2 separate regions of the Homo sapiens genome follow, and region 1 is linked to region 2. Evidence: fine-mapped expression QTL. Tissue or cell type: monocytes. Region 2 holds a variant in brackets; the other region holds the start of a gene. All regions are shown on one strand. Distances are between the middles of the regions.

Region 1 (5,688 bases), 55 kb after region 2:
CTAACAGCTCATTTAGTATATAGCTGTCTGCTCACAACTTCAGAGATGAAAAAAAAATTTTAACATAAAACATTCATCCTCAGAAACTGAACCAATCCCTTTAGGTTGGCTAAAGGATGCTTCTGCAACAGTCATTCACCAGTATGATGCAATGATGTGTTCTATATAGTCCTCAAAAATTCTGTTTTATTCATACCAGATTCTTGCAAGTATTACCACAAGTAATCTCAGAGAATGAGGTCCAAAGTCCTGACAGAGGGGTCCCAATTAGAGCCTCTCAGGTTATCAGAATCATTTGCCCAGACAGGTATATTCAGAAGCCCAAAAATCTTCCCTTTAAACTTGAAAATAGAGTTCCAAACTCAGTTTTCAGTAAAATACCTTTGAGAAGGGCATATTTAAGTTTCAATGTAATATCTACCACATCACCTGCCGAGAACTTTAATTTAGAAATCATCTGTTTTCAAAAATACCATAGCCCAGATGCCAAAGCATGATGTTTATCTTTACACAAAAAAACACCAAAAGAAGAAAGATTTTATTTGGGAAACTAGACCTGGCACTTGTGGTATTTATTTTCTTTCATGTTTTATAACTACCTTTAGTCACTTAATCCTATTATTGAAGAATTAAAGGAAATCAAAGAGATACCAATATAAGACTAGCAATTTGGTAGACAAGAGGGAAAAAATTAGGAGGCTGAAAAGGGAACACACAAACTCACCAACTCAGACTGTTTTTAACAGCATAGCATACTGTGTGGCCAATACCCCTCAAACCATAAATTCTGAGAAAAGTTCCCTAGTACCCAGTGGAGAGTCAAAAACAAATTCCTGCCTCAGCAATTTCTCACCATCATTTTATCCATCTGAGCCTGGCCCTAAATTTTCTAAAACAAAGCTCACAATCACATCCCCCTTCAACTTACATCCTCTCTCATGGAAGAAAGGTACTTTCTGTTCCATCATTTTCCTCTCAAACTCTGCCTATGACCTGGTCCCTAAAAACGAAATGTTCCTTCCACCTCTCCAAGTCTAGGCCCTTCATTCTCTTCCTCCACTGGTTCCTTGGCAGGGCCGGGAGCACAGAGGGAATACCTCCCACCGCTGTACTGGATTTCCCACACCTCGGTTCACATCGAATTTTTCTTCTTAACCCCCAGTAATCTGGCTTGTCTTAGCAATTCTATGAAACTGCAAGCACAGAGGGTTACTGACTCCCAATAGCCAAATAAAAGCTGACCAATCTCTCCTTTTCTAAGTCCTCGCCCTTTTCGATTTCTGCTGGCTCTATCTAGCCTTGGCTCTCCACTCGCCAAGGAAAATTCAAGACTGTGGTTAGACTCTAGTCTTTCTTCTGTGCAATCTAAGTGATCCCCTCCACTGTCCTCCTAGAAATGACATCAGAAAACAATCTTAGACCTATGCATCTCCAGCCACCAGTAAATAGGAAAGCCCTCGATTCTATCTTCATTAAGCCCTTCAACCTTACTTCACATGTCCAAAACCAAATTCAAAGTCTTCCCAGGATTCCTGTCCCATTCCACCTTCACTTCCCTGTATCTACCAACTATATCATCATCGCCACGTCAGTCAAATTTCCCTTCACAGGCAGCCACCAAGGTCTGCTCGTTTTTCCATACTAGTATTGCAACTCCTATGAGAATTAATACGGTTTTTCCATATTAAAATCTCATCCACTATGACTGCAGGTTTGCTTCCTTCCTGGAGTTCAAAAATGACTGCAGTGTCCAGAATGAGAAGCTGCTGTAAGACTCCTTTCCCATGGACCAGCACCCATCCTCAACTGAAACGCAGTCTGGGAAAGTGTGAAAAAATGAAGGAGAAGGAGAGAGACACTCAGCTAACGCCACTGCCCTCATCTCACCTGCCACAAATAATCTGCATCTTCCCCCAGCTACCAAACCGTCCTTCACATAAATTTCTGTTCAGCCCACAAGCTGAAAAGCCCCCTCAGCCTCTTATTAAAGACCCATTAAATAAGTCCTTCACTTCTTGATCAAAAGGAATCATCGCTGTGACTTCTAAAGTGTAAGAAAACCAAACCTTTAAAAGTACCTGTCCTCAGGGCTTGGGGCAGTAAAAAAAAAAACAATCTAGGTGAAACACCTTCTATAGGAAAATTTATTTTTTTTGAACGAACTTAACCAGGCAAAGCAAGTAACTAGCAACATGTGCACAATTTACTTGGGCAAATGTCGCCCGTTCCTCCTCGGTGTCATCAGAAGGTACACTGGGAGAACAGAAGGGTTGAATTGAGCTGGTTTCCAAGGAACCATGTCAGAGCCGCTGCGGAGTTAAGAGCTGCGTCCACACAGCAGCCAAATCATGAAGTTGCAGGAGCGGCTGTTGTTAACCCACAGCTAAGAATAACGCTCGACTTTCCAAAATAAAACGAAGAAACGAAGTCCCCTGGCCAAGGATTCGGGGCGGCACAGAGGGGAAACGGAGCTTCCTGCACTGCCCTCATCACTCAGAACCTGGGGTCCCAGGCGATTCAGTCACCGCCCACAGAACAGCGCCGCGGGCACCACGTGAGACTCCCGGGGCCGGCTGGGAGCGGGGGACGAGGGGCGCCCACTCGGGGGTCGGCAGTTTGCAGGTGCGATGGGCGGCCCCCTCACCCACGTTTATCCGGACTGGAGCCCGCCGCTCCCGGCTGGGTTTCCGGGTGGTTCGCGCTCCTTCTGAATTGGCAGCGAGGTCGCGGCAGGTTCGAGGTAAATCGGACGAAGAGGGGAAAAAGTCTCAGGGGTCTGGGGGCCTCCGCGCCTCAGGGGAGGCAAGGGCCGGGCCAGAGGCGCGAGGGTGGGTGAGGGATTCCCGCCGCGGGGCCGGGACCGGGGCTCGGGCAGTGGGCCATGCCCCGCGCGCCCACGCGGGCCGCCCTACCGTGGCTCTGCAGGATCTCGTGCTTGAGGCCGCCGGTGTAGTCGATGAGCTCCTCCAGGCCGCGCTCGCACAGCTGCCCGTAGCCTGAGAACTTGTGCAGCACCTTCTCCAGCTCGCGCTCCACCGTCACGCACTGATCCATGCCGGAGGCGGCGGCGCTCGGCTCCTCGGCGCCCAGGTGTCCGCAGCCGTTCGGCCCGGGCCCCACCGAGGCCGCGTCCTGCTCCTCGTTCCCCAAGCGGGCGGCGCGGGAGGCTGAGGCGGCCGAGGCGGCGGGCGCACTAGCCGCGGCGCCGGGGGAGCCCCGCGCAGCCGGAGCCCGCCTGCCCCATGGCGCCCTAGCCCCCCGGCGAGTCGCCGCTGCTCCCGTTCGCTCGCTGCACTCGGCTCCGCGTCCCCAGGCCCCGCTCGCGACGTTCGGGTGCCTGCGACGGCGCGGCCGATTGTTTTTGTTTTCACGGGAACCGACCGATGACCTGGTTCTCCCGGGCGGCACCAAGCGCCGCCGACTGGGGGGAGGGGGATGGCCACCCGGGCGAGGAAAGGAGGCGGCGCGGGCCGTACCAAGTACACCCTCGGGGTGGGGGGTGCGACCCGGCGAGAACGGGCGGAGGAACGCGACGGGCGCCCACACGCGCCGCCACTCTAATGGTGTGGGCCGTACCACACGGAAGGCGTGCGAGGGAGAGGGCGAGGGTGGAGCGAGGCCCCAATTGGCCTGAGGAGCTAAATAGGGAACTTTGGAGACAGCCCCAGCGCTCGGAGAGCGCAACAACTACGCGCTCCATAAACAAGGAGGCGGAAACCGGCCCTCACCACTCCGCCCAGAAGCGGGGAACCCCAACCAATGGGCGCGGGGAGTGGTAAGAAGCCAATCCCTGGCCGAGGCGTAAGCCTTCAGCCAATCCGGGCTGAGGGGCCAAACCAACGGGCTCGCTGTTGGAGGGGGTGACTTGGAGAGCGTACCGAGAAACGAGTAGTTTATGGAAAGCCTTGGGGGAAAACTAGACAAAAATACAAAAGGCTGTTTTCCATAGGACGTCGCCCTGATCCCAATTTATTTCGTCTCCTCATCGATCTTAAGGGAAAGGGGTACCGTCATTCCGAACTTTTGGGCGACGGATCCATCTCCCGGGAATGAAAAACCAAGCCAGGCCGCCCGGGGGCTGGTTCTGCGTCGGCGGGGGGTCCCTAATGGGAATTAAAGGCGGGGGTGATTGGGCCCGGGTGAGGGGAGCCGCTTGCTGCTCGCGAAAGGCCCGCGCCGGCTGTCAGCGCTGCCCCGGGCTTGCGACACCCAGGAGGTCATGTCCCCATCCCCCGCGGACCGTGGCCCTTTGGCCCCTTGGCCTGGAACCTCTCCTGACGGTGGCCTCGCCCCAGAGCCATGTGCCGGGCAGCTTAGCCGGGTGGAAAGAACACGCGCTGGAGAGCCGGGCAGCCTGGCCCTTGCTCCCTAGGAAGCCTTATGCTATCGGATCGGATCGGCTTTACCCCCTCGGGTAAATCCTTCCCATCGCTTGCTATGGCGTCTGCAGCCTTGGCCTAGACCTCCTTGATCAGCATCGGCTGCACTACCTTTGCATTTCTTCAGGAGCCCAGCTAGTTCGTGCCTCAGGGCCTCTGCACTTGCCCTTTCCTTGGCCCAGAAAACTCTTCCTCCTACCTTTTTCATCCTGAAGTTCTTCTCAGCTCACTTGTCCCCTTACAGGGTCCTCCCCTGGCTGACCACACTAATGTACTTCCTCCCCACCGTTAATACCATAACACATTTTATTATTTCCACACCACTTAAACTCTGAAATGATCTGATGTTTTATTTTTCTGTCTGCACCACTTACATAAAACCATGACGGCAGGCCCCCTGCTTGTCTAAATTTTTTGCCTAGAACAGCCCCTGGCGTGAGGTGGTAGGCAATTCTTTTTCTTAAATTAACGTGATAACGTTTTTGAGCCTTAACTTCCGTATAACTGAGAAATAATTGGAATTAATACTTAACTAAATTGTTAGATAAAGGAGAATATATGTAAATACCCATAATAGGCTCATGATAACCACATGATAAAGGTGGTAGTAGTCATTATTAGGGCAGCCCCAACTGGTATTATTTCAGATCTCCCTTCTCCCCACCCCATTTTTCTTCCCTCTTGGCAGATGTCTCTGATTCTTCACTGAGATTAAAAAAAAAAAAAAAATCTAGCTCCAGCAACTTCTATCACTCTTCTCCAAGTATTGCTGTGTACCACCCATTTTGTGAACATTCTCATGTACCCAAAGGACCAGGAGTCCCTTCTCCCTTTCCAAGACAGCCGTTGGGGCCTGCGGGCTGCCTCTCACCCCTGTCCAGATCTTCCCCCTCTTTCTCTGCAGTAGGTTCTTCCTTTCTACTTTCAGCCCAAATGGGTTTGACCTACCTGGGGGAGGAAACTTAATTTAACCCTCCTCAAGCACTCATTTCTTTCACTGCCAAACTGCCTAGACAAATCTATGTTTATTCCTCCCTTTTCTTCAAGGATCTCCTTGATAAGCTCAGTCACCCTTTTCTCAGTCTTTTTTTTTTCTTCTCCTTCAAAGGGTTGTTATAGTATGAAATATTCCATTTAAGGCACTCAACAAAATGCCTGGCACAAGGTAAGAGCCATGATAATCCACTGATCACAAATAATCAATGACTCCTCATTACCTACAGCTTCAGATCCTCTCTCAAGGACATGGTCTGCCCTGTGTAGCAACACAGCACAAACCCCTATCCAGGCATGAAGCACTTTCCCACCC
Region 2 (5,000 bases):
AGTGAGCCGAGATTGGGCTACTGCACTCCAGCCCAGGCAACAGAGTGAGAGTCTGTCTCAAAACAACAACAAAAAACAACTCGGGACACTGCTCAGTCACCTTCTCTTCTCACTGTTGGTGGCACAGAAACACAGTAAGATGGGGACAGATATTTTCTTAAATTCTTGACATGCAGACCCTTAGCAAATACAGACAGCAATTTTCTCTTCTCACAGTCAGCACCTCCCTACTCCCTCCCTCATACCTTTGTCACCTGGCACATTTATACAGACTGGTTCCACAAAACACTTTTTAAATGTGCATTTCTTTAATTTTTAAAAATATACACAGGAAAAGCCATGTGTTTTACATAGGAATACACACATTAACAAAGCATTTCTTATAGTTTTCCAAAACTCTATTATATCAGTCCGAAATTTATAAATTAAATATATCAGAATTCTTAAAGTTAAAATGAATTCCCTGAAACTACTGGATATGCTACTTTTTCCAAAATCAAATGAACAGAGGATATGGATGTGGTTTGTGTTAAATAAGGTTTATTGTTAGCTTTATTGCCTATAGTCTATAAGATGCAACTTTACTGTGCCTTTGCAAACAGGATACATTTCTTAAAAAATTGATCAAAATTTTCCATACATATAGCTCTATATGATAGATTACAGTGCAACACTATTCTCGTTACATAATTATAGAAATACTATAGAACCCAAGAGCACGGGGTAAGCAAAATAAATACAATCCTGAGCCATCTGAACAAGATGATTTGATGAATCCTTTAGTGTAAGTTTAGAAAACACAGAGAAGGAAAAAAATACATGCATACTGCAGTCATGAGCAAAATACATCAAACACCTGTTCCTTGCTAGGTGCAGGTGGGGGCAATGGTGAACTTCAGACACATGCACACTCACTCACACTCCCATTTTCTTCTGCTTCCCTCCCAGCCCCAACACATTCATTCCCGCCCCTTCCCAAAAAAAAGATCAGGCACTAAATCCTAGTGAACCCCACAACTGCCTTGCTGGAGAAGGTTAAGTGACTGCTAAAGTAAGAGTGTATGTAGGTCCTCACCCATAACATGAAACAAAGCATGTGCTGTAAGCCAATTCCAGCTGCTTTTGCCTCTTTGGAAGTAAATGAAGCATATGCCCACTACAGCTTGAAACTGCAGTGGAAATGTCTTGAAAACAAAATTTTGTTTCTCTTGCTATGTCTTGAAGTAAAATCAACAGTGGAAAATTCATCCTAAAACTGCCTCATCTGCTATTAAAATACATTTGTCATTCTATTTTTGGTATCTATTCAATTATAGTTCATTAAGAACGGTTCATGAAGCTTGTACCTGCTTATGGTAAACATCAGTGTACCACACAAAACCTGCCACACCTAGACAGGCTTATGAAACACCAAATCTTCTATGTGTTCCTTGCTAACATTCCCTCAAGACCACAGCATTCTAGTGTTACCAGAGATAAAGTACGTATAGTTAAGTGATGAAAGAAAGGTATTTGGTTTGTGTCGTCACCTTATACATCCTAGTGATGAAACTAACCAAACTATGCCTCCATGCCTTCCCTGAAAATAACCTGAGTCGGCTGACGAAACAGACTGAGCAGCGTGGCTCTCAGTCCACTTTATCAGAGGTTGAGCTGGAAAACCAGAGGGCTAATGTAGTCTACCAGCAGCTTGTGCGGATAACCAAGAGTTCTTGGCTGTTGCAGTATCCACTGTCCCAAAGGCTAAGCCACTGAGGTGGAAATCAATCGCAGCATAAAGAAGACTGAACTTAAGCTGCATAACCTGCGAGACTACCTGGAGAGGACAAAAGAGGATCAGGATCCTCATTTCCCACAAAATGTGGTGTGGGTTTTAGTGTCTCTATGCATTAGCTGCTACAGAGAAGTTAACATTTACTTCATAGCTTTCTTATTTTCAATTAAATGCTCACACTCAAAAAATACACACCCTATGAATATGAGGTGGCTCTTTTCTTCAAATTTTTTAAAATAAAGAGGCACCAATACCCGTTCATTTATGTATTAGAAGTCTCGTATAATCACCAATAAAACAGAAATAGCATCTGTGATCACACAACGGAGAAAAAAGATCAAGAGACAACCTTAGCCACTGTAAAACTGTACTTGAACACTCAGATGCTCTGGCTAAGTCAGAATCTAAAGATTTGCTAATAAGGTTTTATTGGTTTAGCATAGTCCCATGGCCTTTGTCTATAACTGATATGTGGAAACGGTTCCCAAGGAAATTTAAGAAACCATTCTGAAATTCTGCCTTTGATGTACATTATAATTAAATGTGACTGTTATAAACGTTGCCTCTATCATATTATCTTTTGTAAAGTGGAGGCAAAGAGAGACAAAAAGCATCCTCCTGGACTGCTGACATGCAGAAAGCATCAGCGATGATAGGGTTGTGACAGCATTTATGGAGTTTCTAGGGCAGGGGGGACAGAATGCTGTATCTCAGCATCTTTGGTTAAGGTCTGGCCTCTTTAAATCCACCTCTCCCTCACATTTAGTCTCTCATGAATTTTAAGTCCATGCACTTGAAGACGGTCACAAGATATAATTTCCATATAATATGTCAGATTCATAAGAGTTTCAGATTTTTGGTCCTCACCCTGCCCAGTGGGAGTACACGGGCCTTACACAGAAAGCTGCAGAGTCCAATGCTTCAGTTAAAGCATGTTCTTTTCAAAGTTTTCTTGAGCTGCACAAAAAACCGTCAACAGTTTTTTGGCTCCCAGCACTGGGAGAGGGATAAAGCTGAGCTCTGGCTTTTGTCCTTTAAAGTGGCCCAAGCCGACTGTATGAAGAGTCTGGTCATCAAACACATTTACCACCAGCCTTCAGAGTACATCTGTCTCATTCAAACCTTACAGGAAGCCTAAACGTTGTGTAGGTGTTTGGGTGGAAAGATAAGAATAAGCTAAACTTGGCCTAAGGAGAAAAAGGGTAAAAAAAAAAAAAAAAAAAAA[GAAA/A]GAAAGAAAAATACAACACTCTAGGTTTTAATTCAAAGGAAAAATATATATATAATAAACTGGTTTACACCCTTGGTCAGACTGTTGCCTGGAATTCTCTACCTTCTCTTTCACAGTCCAAAGAGTTTGTCTCTGTTCTCTTCCTTCACTGCTTTAGCAAAGAGAGGGGGAACTTCAAAGAGGATTCCAACAGTGAAGCAGAATCATGGGGCAAAAGTCGCTATGGGGCCAGACTGAGGTTGGACCACACAAGCACTCCAAGCTGGGCCAATCCCAACCGCTGGTGAAGCCGCACAGCACGGAGTAGCCATCCACATAGGCCTGGCCACATGGTACTCAAGCAGAGGTTTTCCACAGTACTCTTTCTCCTCACAAACAAACCCCAGCTCTCCCAGGTAAACATTTTAGAAAAAACATCCAGGCTGGTGTACTACTGTAAAACGCTGCCAGTTTCTAATTAACTTAGCACCAAATCTGTGATTCCCCCTCCCTCAAACCAAGTCCATCTGTAGTTTAAAATGTGAAGTGCCACATTTCTCTTTGCTTCTGTGTTTTCATTTTCTTTGAAAGTATTCCTATTGATGTTCACTCCATGTCAGAAGAAATAAAGTTGCAAAATATTTGGTGATTTCCGTGTAACGTTCTTCTTATACTGAAGTAACTTCATGGGTTTCGGTCAGAATTATGTCCACAGAAGTCTTTTCCATGTAGTTCGTCATACAGAAAGACTCTTACACATGGCTATTTTTGGACAGTGCATAAATGAAGATACCTCACAAGAGAAAAGATCATTATCTGTATCCATCAGAATAATATACAGATTCACAGTCAATGAGATGATACGCTTTGCAGAAGAGAGGCATCAAACATTATACTATTCAAACACAAAAACAGCAATAAACGTTCTGCACTACAGAAAATTTGCTAGCTTCTAACTTTAAGGATTTAAAGTGATGGGTCTGGTAACTGCATTTTAGAACTGGAACATGCTGCTTTCCTTCCAGATACACAATGTTTGATGCTGGTGCACATATACAATACACACATGCACAACACTGTGTCTGCAATGATATAATAGGGCTACCAAGACCAAGAGAGTAAATATCAACTTAAGAACACTTCTAACTTTAGAATTTCATTTTATTAAACATACTTTTAAAACAAGCACCTCTTGGCAATAAAAGCAAAAACAAAAAACAAACAAACAAAAACCCAACCAAACAATAGTACTCCTTCCACTCTATGCTAACGGAAGACTTCTCACACCAGCCAGTTAAACAATGAAATTCTTAAACACGCAGCCTGCTGGGGCTGCATGCAGAGCTAAAATGCAGGTGTGCTGACTTCTTGGAGCTGGAGCAGAGGAAAACATCAAAAAGCATATCTGGAATCTATCACAGCTTTCTTTCTTAAGCAAATAAAAATGCAAATTAGTTTCATAACCACAATTCAATTTATCAAACTTTTTCTGAAGAATTTTCATTTAATTATGTATACATAACAGGAAATAAAACTTTTTCACAAACACTCTCAAGGCTTACGATTATCAAGAAAATGACAAAAGTAAAAGCAGGAGGAATATTAAACACATGGCGGGGAGGTCAATTTCCGTTTCTGCTCTTAAAAAGTAAAAAAATCACCATATAATTAAGTACAAAAACCTGCATTGAATGACAACTGCTGGTGTATTTACTTGATCAGAAATGAAGACCAAGAATATAATAAAGCCCTATGATAATATTCACCGGGAGCACTCCCCTCAGTGTGTGTACACTAACAGGTTGGCAAAGTTTCTGGAGCATTAGCTTATAGAAACACAGGAGTCCTTGGTTAGCTGCATTATATGGAACGTTCTCTTCTGAAATGCACCCACGATTCAGTTTCACTTACAAATTGCAAACTAAAGTTATCTCTTCAGAAAAATATCTGTTTGGCATCTCCTGGACTTTGTTCCATTGGACAGTAGGGACATTTTAATCTAAAGACAAAGAAGAAAAC

Alleles and levels. Alleles are on the strand shown, and positions count from the first base shown. SD is a standard deviation of normalised expression in the study named.
In carriers of allele GAAA in region 2, the expression in monocytes of the gene that starts at base 3,431 in region 1 tends to be higher than with A alone (moderate effect, 0.47 SD a copy in Fairfax 2014).

The links. PIP is the estimated chance that this variant, and not a neighbour inherited with it, causes the effect.
Region 1: it holds the start of RMND5A, and the variant in region 2 is the best candidate, but not a certain one, in a credible set for the expression of RMND5A in monocytes (Fairfax 2014, PIP 0.78).

Annotation. Positions count from the first base shown.
Region 1 is chr2:86,718,034-86,723,721 of GRCh38, reverse strand. RMND5A (required for meiotic nuclear division 5 homolog A) reads right to left here and starts at 3,431. Exons shown (of 9, transcript NM_022780.4): 1 at 2,913-3,431. The coding sequence starts at 3,054. RNF103-CHMP3 (RNF103-CHMP3 readthrough) reads left to right here and starts at 2,600. Exons shown (of 8, transcript NM_001198954.1): 1 at 2,600-2,740. RefSeq lists silencers at 2,815-2,874, 3,353-3,511, 3,395-3,584 and an enhancer at 3,705-4,238.
Region 2 is chr2:86,773,328-86,778,327 of GRCh38, reverse strand. RMND5A (required for meiotic nuclear division 5 homolog A) reads right to left here. Exons shown (of 9, transcript NM_022780.4): 9 at 287-4,980. The coding sequence ends at 4,917. Among named protein-coding and RNA genes, the nearest start is that of CD8A, 15 kb to the left of the region's middle. The variant GAAA/A (reference allele first, on the strand shown) is at 3,000.